Linked DNA regions of Homo sapiens. The protein of the gene in region 3 purifies or fractionates together with the protein of the main gene of each other region. This does not show direct contact. Each region holds a gene or a part of one and is shown on either strand. Other genes may lie near its edges.

Evidence for each region.
Region 1: the proteins of ALDH1L2 (region 3) and EMID1 purify together in Homo sapiens (co-immunoprecipitation; one large-scale study listed by IntAct). This does not show direct contact.
Region 2: the proteins of ALDH1L2 (region 3) and POLA1 purify together in Homo sapiens (affinity purification with mass spectrometry, with the first as the bait; one large-scale study listed by BioGRID). This does not show direct contact.

Annotation. Positions count from the first base shown.
Region 1 is NC_000022.11:29,226,396-29,229,895, reverse strand, and holds part of EMID1 (EMI domain-containing protein 1 isoform 1 precursor), read right to left. Parts: intron 3,407-3,500; coding exon 3,345-3,406; intron 1-3,344.
Region 2 is NC_000023.11:24,714,418-24,717,917, reverse strand, and holds part of POLA1 (DNA polymerase alpha catalytic subunit), read right to left. Parts: intron 3,365-3,500; coding exon 3,249-3,364; intron 2,778-3,248; coding exon 2,715-2,777; intron 1,557-2,714; coding exon 1,464-1,556; intron 1,035-1,463; coding exon 947-1,034; intron 629-946; coding exon 427-628; intron 339-426; coding exon 160-338; intron 1-159. UniProt on the Homo sapiens protein: Catalytic subunit of the DNA polymerase alpha complex (also known as the alpha DNA polymerase-primase complex) which plays an essential role in the initiation of DNA synthesis.
Region 3 is NC_000012.12:105,074,459-105,077,958, reverse strand, and holds part of ALDH1L2 (mitochondrial 10-formyltetrahydrofolate dehydrogenase precursor), read left to right. Parts: intron 1-3,500. UniProt on the Homo sapiens protein: Mitochondrial 10-formyltetrahydrofolate dehydrogenase that catalyzes the NADP(+)-dependent conversion of 10-formyltetrahydrofolate to tetrahydrofolate and carbon dioxide.

The DNA.
Region 1 (3,500 bases), on a different chromosome or scaffold from region 3:
CACAGATCAGGGGCTCAGGGATCGTGGGGGCCTGTCCAGAGAAAAGCTGAAACTCTCTGGCAGATCCTGAACCAGGAATTCCCATCAAGATGTGGGACTGAGTTGCCTCTTACATGGGCTTCTCCTGGGAGGGAGCTCAGGGAACTGCTCCTGGAACCCCGTGCCTTGTAACTCAGGTGCCAGCACACGCTATTTGGAAGCTTGGTTTTCCCATTTGATAAATCAGGGGCATCTTCTTTTTTTTTTTTTTTTGAGGTGGAGTTTTGCTCTTGTTGCCCAGGCTGGAGTGCAATGGCGTGATCTTGGCTCACCGCAACCTCCGCCTCCCAGGTTCAAGCAATTCTCCTGCCTCGGCCTCCCTAGTAGCTGAGATTACAGGCATGCGCCACCAAGCCTGGCTAATTTTGTACTTTTAGTAGAGATGGGGTTTCTCCATGTTGGTCAGGCTGGTCTCGAACTCCTGACCTCATGTGATCCGCCCGCCTCAGCTTCCCAAAGTGCTGGGATTACAGGCATGAGCCACCGCGCCCAGCGGCATCTTCTTTTTTTTAATTTTAGAGACAGGGTCTAGCTCTGCCGTCCAGGCTAGAGTGCAGTGGTGCTATCACGACTCACTGCAGCCTTGTCCGTCTGAGCTCAAGTGATCCTCCTGCCTCAGCCTCTTAAGCAGCTGGGACTGTGTGCCAGCTGTGTGCCACTAAGCCTAGCTAATTTTTTGTAGAGATGGAGTCTTGCTATGTTGCCCAGGCTGGTCTCGGGCTCCAGGCCTCAAGCAATCCTCCTGCTTCGGCCTTCCAAAGTGCTGGGATTACAGGTGTGAGCCACCATGCCCAGCCTAGAGAAATCTTTTCATATTAGGGAAGGGAAGTATTGTAAATGGCTGCTGAATGCCCCATAGAATGAATTCTCCACAATTATACAACCATGCCTTCTTTTGCCTGGTTTTCAAATTTCTCTATTGGTAAACATTTTTGCATCTGATAATCTCATTAAGTTCCCAGGCTGGGCACAATGGCTCACATCTGTAATCCCAACACTCCTGGAGGCTGAGGCAGGAGGATTCCTTGAGGCCAAGAGTTCAGGACCAGTTTAGGAAACATAGCAAGACCCCAGCTCTAAAAAAAGTTTTTTAAACTAGCCAGGTGTGGTGGCACATGTCCGTAATGCCAGCTACTCAGGAGGTTGGGGCAGGAGGATAGCTTGAGCCCAGGAATTGGAGGCTGCAGTGAGCTCCAACTCACGGCAGATTGCAATGCCTGCACTCCAGCCTGGGTGACAGAGCAAGACCCTGTTTCTGAATCAAAACAAAACGAACAAACAAAAGATAAATTTCCAGAGAAGGGAATGATGGAGCAAAGAATGGCACTAAAGTGTATGCATGTCTGTGTGTTTAGAAAATCTGGAAGAAAGGATGCTTAAGTGTCGACAGTTGCATTCTTTGGGGGCATGGGCAACTGCTGTGAATGGTTTGCTGGCTGTTTTTTCACATTTCTGAATTTTTCATGTTTCTAAATTTAGAATGTTGTACTTTTTAATTTAAATTAATTAATTAATTACTTTTTTTTTTCTTGAGACGGAGTCTCGCTCTGTCGTCCAGGGTGGAGAGCAGTGGTGCAATCTCGGCTCACTGCAACCTCTGCCTCCTGGGTTCAAGCAATTCTCTGCCTCAGCCTCCCAAGTAGCTGGGATTACAGGTACCTGCCACCACACTCGGCTCATTTTTTTTTTTTTTTTTTTTTGAGATGGAGTTTCGTTCTTGTTGCCCAGGCTGGAGTGCAATGGCACAATCTCGGCTCACTGCAACCTCTGCCTCCCGGGTTCAAGCGATTCTCCTGCCTCAGCCTCCCGAGTAGCTGGGATTACAGGCATGCGCCACCATGCCCGGCTAATTTTTGTATTTTTAGTAGAGATGGGGTTTCTCCAAGTTGGTCAGGCTGGTCTTGAACTCTTGACCTCAGGTGATCCGCCCTCCTTGACCTCCCAAAGTGCTGTGATTACAGGCGTGAGCCACGGCACTCGGCCCCGGCTAATTTTTTGTATTTTTAGTAAAGATGAGGTTTCACCATCTTAGCCAGGCTGGTCTTGAACTCCTGACCTTGTGATCCACCCGGCTCGGCCTCTCAAATGCTGAGATTACAGGCATGAGCCACTGCGCCTGGCCTAATTTGTTTTTTTTTTTTTTTTTTTTTTTGAGACAGAGTCTCGCTCTGTTACCCAGGCTGGAATACAGTGGCGCAATCTTGGCTCACTACAACCTCCACCTCCCAGGTTCAAGTGATCCTCAAGCCTCAGCCTCCTTTGTAGCTGGGATTATGGGTGTGTGCCACCATGCCAGGCTAATTTTTGTATTTTTAAAAGAGACAGGGTTATGCCATGTTGGCCAGAATGGTCTCGAACTCTTGGCCTCAAGCAATCCACCTGCCTCGGCCTCCTAAAGTATGGAGATTACAGGTGTGAGCCGCTGCGCCAAGCAGTACTTTTTAATTTAAAAAAAAAAAAAAGTTTTATGGCAGCGCAGCGGCTCACACCTGTAATCCCAGCACTTTGGGAGGCCAAGACAGTGAATTGCTTGAGCTTAGAAGTTCAAGACCAGCCTGGGCAACATGGAGAAACCCCATCTCTACCAAAAATTTAAAAATTAGCTGGATGTGGTATTGTTCACCTATGGTCCCAGCTACTCAGGAGGCTGAGGTGGGAGGATCATTTGAGCCCAGGAGGCATAGGTTGCAGTGAGCTGAGATCTCGCCACTGCACTCCAGCCTGGGCAACAGAGGAAGACCCTGTTTCAAACAAAACAAAACAAAAAATACACAACATTTTATCTTGAAATAATTTGAGATGTGTGATAGATGTTTTGTTTTTGAAACCAGGAAGATAGTATTATGGATGGGGGTTGGGGGGATAGAGAAAGGGGATGGGGCAGGGGCAGGCAGGAGATCCTACCAGGATCTCTGGGCAGTGTCTATGCTGATCTGGTGGGGATGGTGATGGAGCCCCATGGGAGGGAGCTCACAGGCCTCCTGGAGGAAGAACAGGCCAGGCTGGCTGTGACTTGCGCTTCACATATACAGTTTTCCCTGAGTGGATGCTAGTATCCCCTCCGCTTGACAGGTGGGAAAACTGAGGCACGACCTGTGAGCAGGCTTCCTAGGGAGGGACACTGGAGGAGACCATGACATGCCTGACAGGGGATGCTGCTCGCCGAGTCAGTTCAGAGCTGCCCTGTGGGTTCACTGAGGGTGCGAGCATGGGGTGCGGGGAAGGAGGTGGGGAGGGTGGGATGGTGGTTGCCTGGACTGGCCTGTGGCAGGGAACAACCACCCAGGAGGGAGCTGCTCACCCACCTTGGCCTCCAGCACCTTCAGCCGCTCTGTCAGCTCTGACACTTTGCTGCAGTTGAGACAACCTGCGGGGAGGGAGGAAGCTGGGGCCAGGGCCAAGGGTCCTAGGCTTCCCCTCAGAACCCTTCAGTCTCTGGGGGTTGGGATGGAGGAAAGCGT
Region 2 (3,500 bases), on a different chromosome or scaffold from region 3:
ATTACAGTGACTCAAGTATTTAAGGATAAAGAAAAAAAAAACAGAAATAAACTGATTAAATAAAAAGACAAAACACACAAAAAGAAACAAAAAATAAAATATTTAAGGGAAAAGTCCTACTCTGAGTTAAAGGCATATAGTTACCTTATATATGATTACCTGGTTGGTTGTACTGATCCTCATAAGCATCCAACCAATAAAAGTGGAATACTTGTTCCTCATCTGCCCCTTTTACCAATGGGAGGTGACTGGAATCCACTTGAACTTCTTGCACTGAGAAACTGCTATCACCTTCTTGATCAATGTCCCAACAAGAGACATCCGGGAGAAAACTTCCTCTGCAGAAATCACATTTTCAAAAACCTTTCAAAATCCAACAGAAAAATTGTGGTCCTATTTGCCAGAAAAGTCATAAAATGCTCTTACAAGTAGGACACGGTCCCTTTCCCAGAATCCGCCTCTTGTTTCACTTCCTCTGCTGGCTCACTCTCTTTGTCCCAAGCCTTGGCAGCCATAGGCTCCAGGTCCACCTCTTCAACTTCCATGGGCTCATCAAAGTCACCATCTTCAAACTCCATTGCCCCTGACTCCTGCTCTTCTTCTGTACTCTCGACCTGTACATCATCGCCTGTAGGCATCATCACACATTCTTGTCATGTGTTATTGCGATGACACAAAGGCACACAAAGGCACACAAAGGCGCACAAAGGCTTATCCAACACTAAAATAGCAGCCTGTCCCTTTTCTATACTATGTTTGCATTTCTCTTTAATCTCCAAATTGGGTGTTTTTAACTTTTACTGAAATTTTTATGAATTCAAATCTTCACATTTAAACTTGCCATCACAACACCTTCAAAATCTCCTCTACCTCCTCCATCATAGGGCCTCCATTTTTGACAGAAACCACTCAACACTCTTGCAATTCTGCCTGACATCACACTTACCAGCAAATTCAGCACGTTTAAGAGGAACAGGAGTTAATGGAGGCTCCTTTCTGGAGACAGGGGAAGCAATTTTTCCTGAAGGAACTGCCTGTAAACGTTTTTAAATATTTAGTCAGTTAGACCTACATACTAAAAATATGCAACTGTCCTACCCTGACCAAAGATAATGACAGTTCCCTTTTATAAAAAGATTTTATGTATTATTAATGTAACAGCTTCAATTATTTTACTGTTACCTAGGTTTACAAAAAAATACTTGCTTCTGGGAGGAAAATTATTGCATTTACCACAGTTGTAATACCTATAATAAACACACACTAGTTACTGCAAATTTACTATGAAAAAGGCAGGCACATGCTATTTTTGAAATACATGAAACTATAAATTGAATGGGAGTCCTAATTTAAAACAAAAATCAAAAACAAATGTAAAGGTATTTCCCTCATACAGAAAAGCAACAAAATAAGTTTAAAGCAATACTATAAATCAAGATTGAAGGTATCTCTACACACTTTACCGTGGCGGTGTGCACAGAGAAAGGATTCGGTGAAGCTCCAATGGATCTTTTCTTCTTCAGTATCATTACAGGTGGTGGAGTTATTTGAGGTGTCTAAAAGGAAAGGTAAGACATATTCACTGCCATGCTTGGTTTACCACAGACAGAAAAAGTATACTTCTTCACTCATTGAAGCCCAATAAGCAAAGCTTTCTTTTCTTTCCCTTTCCCCCTCCCCCCTCCCATCGATGTCATGTACTGTGGTTACTATAGCAACAATACTATAGAAATCACAAGAAAACTAAAATAGATATTAAATCTACCCCCTCCCAAATTTTTTCTTCTTAAAATTTAACATACTTTCACTGACCCTTTGAGAATATTACATTTAAAAATTGTCAAGATAAAACTACATGGTGTTGTTGTTAAGTCATTTTAATCAATGGTCACTTTAAAAGAAGTACACTTCTAAATGAGAGCGTAGTCTTTATGGGAAATGGCCAAATCTCAAATTCACAATGCAGCTAATCCTGTTTGAGTTCTATCAGGGATAGTTCACTCACTCTTCCTTCATTCCCACTCAGAATTCAAGACAAGGCTCTTATACCTGATTGTGCAGATTGACAGGCTTCAATCTATTTAGGGAACATACACCACAGCAACTGAACACAAGCAGTGAGCACTCACAGAACTGACTCCTGGGTATATTCTTACTACTTCAAACACACACCCACACATCCCTATCTACATAATCACACAGCTCTAACAGCTGGAAATACTCACCTAAAATGGTGGGATAAAACCAATCTGAAGGGGGTTTCTTTGTTTTTTGGTGGGGGGTTTTTTGTTGGCGTTCTTACATTTTAAAAAATTCTGTCAACAGGCCGGGCACAGTGGCTCACGCCTGTAATCCCAGCACTTTGGGAGGCCAAGACAGGCGGATCACGAGGTAAGGAGTTCGAGACCAGCCTGGCCAACATAGTGAAACCTAGTCTCTAGTAAAAATACAAAATATTAGCCGGGCGTGGTGGCAGGTGCCTGTAATCCTAGCTACTCGGGAGGCTGAGGCAGGAATCAGGGAAGAGGAACCTGGGAATCAGAGGTTGCAACGAGCCAAGATCGCACCACTGCACACCAGCCTGGGCAACAGTGCAAGCTACTGTTTCAAAAAAAAAGAAAAAATTCTGGCAATAGTCTGTTTTGTATAATTACTAGAGTGTTTCTTCAGTCTATGTCCTCTGCATATTTTACAACTCCTGGAGATTCATTTACCTCAGTGTTAAGATCCTGTAGAATGTCACCTAGCAGACCATCCTTGGACAAGTCTACAGCTTTCTGGAAATGATAAAGAAAGGTAACATGAGAAAGCCTTGCACTTAAAATGTCTCACCAAAACTACACACATGTATATGAAAGGAAGGACCTAGCCAGTTAGTCCTTGCCTCTTCATTCCTCACTCTCTGAGTGCTCATCTACATTCACAGATTTTAACAACCACCTGTGTATATAGCATTCCTACATCTATAGCTCCCATCCTCTACTTTCGCCCTTAATCCATGATCTTCCTGCTACTCACTAAAATTAAACACACTCTCAATTCAGCTTTTCTGTTCAATTCTCTTTTCCATTTCGCAAGTTCCAACCACTGAGGTGCCTTAATTCACTTAGAAATCTACATCCAACTTAGTGAGTGAAATTGGAAAAATGTTACTCAAATATATACAGAGCACCTGTTATCTGTATAATCAAATATTAAATTCACCTCACAAAGGAAAATACAAAAAATAAGGAAACCATGAAACTCACATCTGCAGTTTTCTTTCCAGCACAAGCAATGAACATTGACTTAATGTTGTTCGGTTTTGTCACTGCGAGCTTCTTTACATTCCTCTTGTCTTTATTGCGTGCTTTACCATCTTTTCCTATTGGAATATGAATTATTTAGAAACATGCATCAGCAAAAATCAAAATGGAAAACTAAAAGCCTAGTCACTTGATCTCTATTGGGAAGAAAAATGTTAAGAATTAAAAATACATCATGCCTGTATTCCCAGCACT
Region 3 (3,500 bases):
GGGTCTCAGGAAAATGTACTTTGTTTTATTCTTTTGTGTGAAGGTCCTCTGTGTGAAACTGCCAATTCTTACTTGGATAGCTTTGGCCTTACTTTACACCCTGCCCAGATGGTTCTATTAGCATCTGGCCAAAGGGCTTCAGATCAGGGCAGACTCTTCGCACTGTGCCTTGAAGTTTTCTTTGGAAAGCTATGTGTACCTTTTTTTTTTTTTTTTTTTAATTCTTGGAGCATAGTCAGGGTCTGTATTAACTTGCTTCCTGAAGAATTCCACCAGAGGGTGGACAGCCTGGGAATGCATTATTTGACAATTTGGAAAGCAAAGGCTCTGCTCCCTGCAAAAGTCTCCTCTAGTGAAGAATGTTCTCTCTAAAGAAACAAGGTCGGGCGTGGTGGCTCACGCCTGTAATCCTAGCACTTTGGGATGCCAAGGCGGGTGGAGTGCCTGAGCTCGGGAATTTGAGACCAGCCTGGGCAACACGATGAAACCCCATCTCTACTAAAATTAAAAAAAAAAAAAAATTAGCTGGGCATGACGGCGTGCGCCTGTAATCCCAGTTACTTGGGAGGCTGAGGCAGGAGAATTGCTTGAACCCGGAAGGCGGAGGTTGCAGTGAGCCGAGATGGCGCCATTGCACTCAAGCCTAGGTGACACAGTGAGACTCTGTCTCAAAAAAAAAAAAAAGAAAAAAGAAACAAGATTAGATTATAGAACTTATCATCCAGATTTGGAAATGACTGTGTGTCATTTTATGCCCTTTCTCACTAATGCGACAGACACCTATAGTGAGAGCCGGTTAAAGAATGGTGCTGTCTCCCACGTCACTTCCACTGTGGCATTTCCTTAAACAGGCTGATGGAACTATTCCCAATTGACCTGTCAAACTGTTGCTATGTTTTTCTTTTTCTAAAGTAGGAGGGGAACTTTCAGCATAGGAAAGCCTTAGAAACACATCTGCTAAAGTAAGACAGATCCAGGTTTGAATCCTGCCCTGGACCCTTATTAGCTCTGCCCTTGGGCAGGTTACTTAACTTTCTGACCCCTTTGTTTTCTCATTTGCAAAATGGGTCACTGGGGGGATTAAAGATGTATAATAAGCATTTGATAAATACTTTTTGAATTAATGAAAAGGGCTCAACATAGTGTTTGGCTCATGGTATATTTCCAATAGGAAATATCTATTATCATTATTTGTAGGTACCTAGGTATTGCTTATGGTATGATAATAATAATAGGTAACATTTACTGAGCATTTACTATTGCCATGCACTGTGCTAATGCATTACACACTTTATCCCATTGAATCCTTATAACAACCTTATGAGATAGGTACTATTACTATTCTGATTTTAATTGATGATGGAAAATAAAGCCCAGTTCAAGACTGCACAGCTGGTGTATGAAAAAACAATAGGCACTAGGATAATAAACAGAGTTGGAATCTCAGGGCTGCCTCTTAGCAGCTATTTGACTCCTGGCTACTTAACCTCTCTGTCTTTAATTTCTTTATCCCTAAAGTGGGTTAATAATGCCTGTCTCCAGGAGTCATTGTGCAATCAAATGAGATAATAATGTGAAATACTTGGCCCAAACTAGGGTCTCATTAAAATGTTTGCTCTTATTTCCACCATTTCTTCCTGACCGAAACTCCCCAGGGCAGAATCTTGTTCTTGTGGGCAGACATACCACTCTCCACAGAGCAGAGATTCTCAGACTTCCATGTACTTCTGAGTCACTGAAGAGTTTGTTAAAATGCAGCTTCCTGGGCTTAAGATTCTGAGTCAGTAGATCTGAAGTAGGGCCCAGGAATCCACATTTTAAACATGTTCTCCCAGTTACTTCTGCCAATACAGGCAGGCACCACACCTGGAGAAATAAGACTGAAGTAAAATAGCCTGTAATCCTGGCACTTTGGGAGGCCAAGGCAGGTAGATCACCTGAGGTCAGGAGTTTGAGACCAGCCTGGCCAACATGGTGAAACCCTGTCTCTACTAAAAATACAAAAATTAGCTGGGCATGGTGGTGTGTGCCTGTAATCCCAGCTACTAGGGAGGTTGAAGCACAAGATTCACTTGAACCCGGGAGGCGGAGGCTGCAGTGAGCCGAGATTGCACCACTTCACTCCAGCCTGGGTGACCATGGAGTGAAACCCTGTCTCAAAATAAATAAATAAAGTAAAATATATCAGTCCAATTTTCTGGAATCTTGCTAACTCATTATAAACATATTTATAGTCATGAAATCTGAAAACTTCTCAGTGTTAGAAACTCACCTTTATAGCTTCAGCTTCAGTGTAAAGCTCAGAAAGTGTTTCAATGAATGTAGTGTTTCCAAAGATACTGACATGGTTTCTTTTTTTGCGGGGGCGGGGTGTGGACAGAGTTTCACTCTTGTTGCCCAGGCTGGAGTGCAATGGTGCGATCTCAGCTCACTGCAACCTCTATCTCCCGGGTTCAAGCAATTTTCCTACCTCAGCCTCCCGAGTAGCTGGGATTACAGATGCCTGCCACCATACCCGGCTAATTTTTGTATTTTTAGTAGAGACAGGGTTTCTCCATGTTGGTCAGGCTGGTCTTGAACTCCCGACCTCAGGTGATTCACCCGCCTCAGCCTCCCAAAGTGCTGGGATTACAGGCGTGAGCCACCGCGCCCGGCCAACATGGCTTCTTTAAATACTGTCTTTCTCAGAGAGGACTGAATCTGGAATTGAACTCCAAATAACCAGACGACAGCCGAGCGGCACATTACATTTGAGTCATCTCAGTCTCTTGGCTCTTGGGTGTTTGAAAAGTAGTATTTTAGATGTCTTGAATATCTGGCATTGGTAATGGTAAGTGGTAAAGCCAAAATTTTTGTAAGGTGGCAAACATGTAGATTCTATTTCAAGCAACAGCATTAGTTATAGGATTTGAAGATAGCATATAGGACATTTGATTTTTTTGAGAAGAGGAAATTAAATGGTCAGCCATGCATTATCTGCAGGTGAATTTGCTGTTGTTACAGAGTTAATCTGTTTGTTTGCAAGTATTTGTTGAAGCTTACTTAGGTTCTTTGGGGATAGAAAGTTTGGCTGACCCTAGGATGTTTTTTTAATTAGTTAAATTAGTTAAAACTTTGTTTTATTATCTGCTCAATTACAGGGAAGTTGTGATCTGGTATCCTTTTAAGTCCATTCCTAAAAACAGGATGTTATGTATGCCTCTAATAAAGTGGGAAATAAGGGAAAATTAAATTTCTTCAAAAACAGAGTTTCTCAGTGAGGCTTTACTAATTTAGAATTACTTGCCAGAACATTAGCGAATCCCATTTAGATTGGAGGGGGATAAACATCCTAAGTTCAGATCCCCGTGGAGCCACATGCTAACATGGAAGAATGTAAAGTAGAGAGAGTTCTGCGGAGGCACTGCCAAGAGAGGAAGCTCATAGGAAGTCATGACCCTCTGATTACCCTCTTTCTTTCTTTCTTTTTCTTTTCTTTTTTTTTTTTTTTTTTTTTTTTT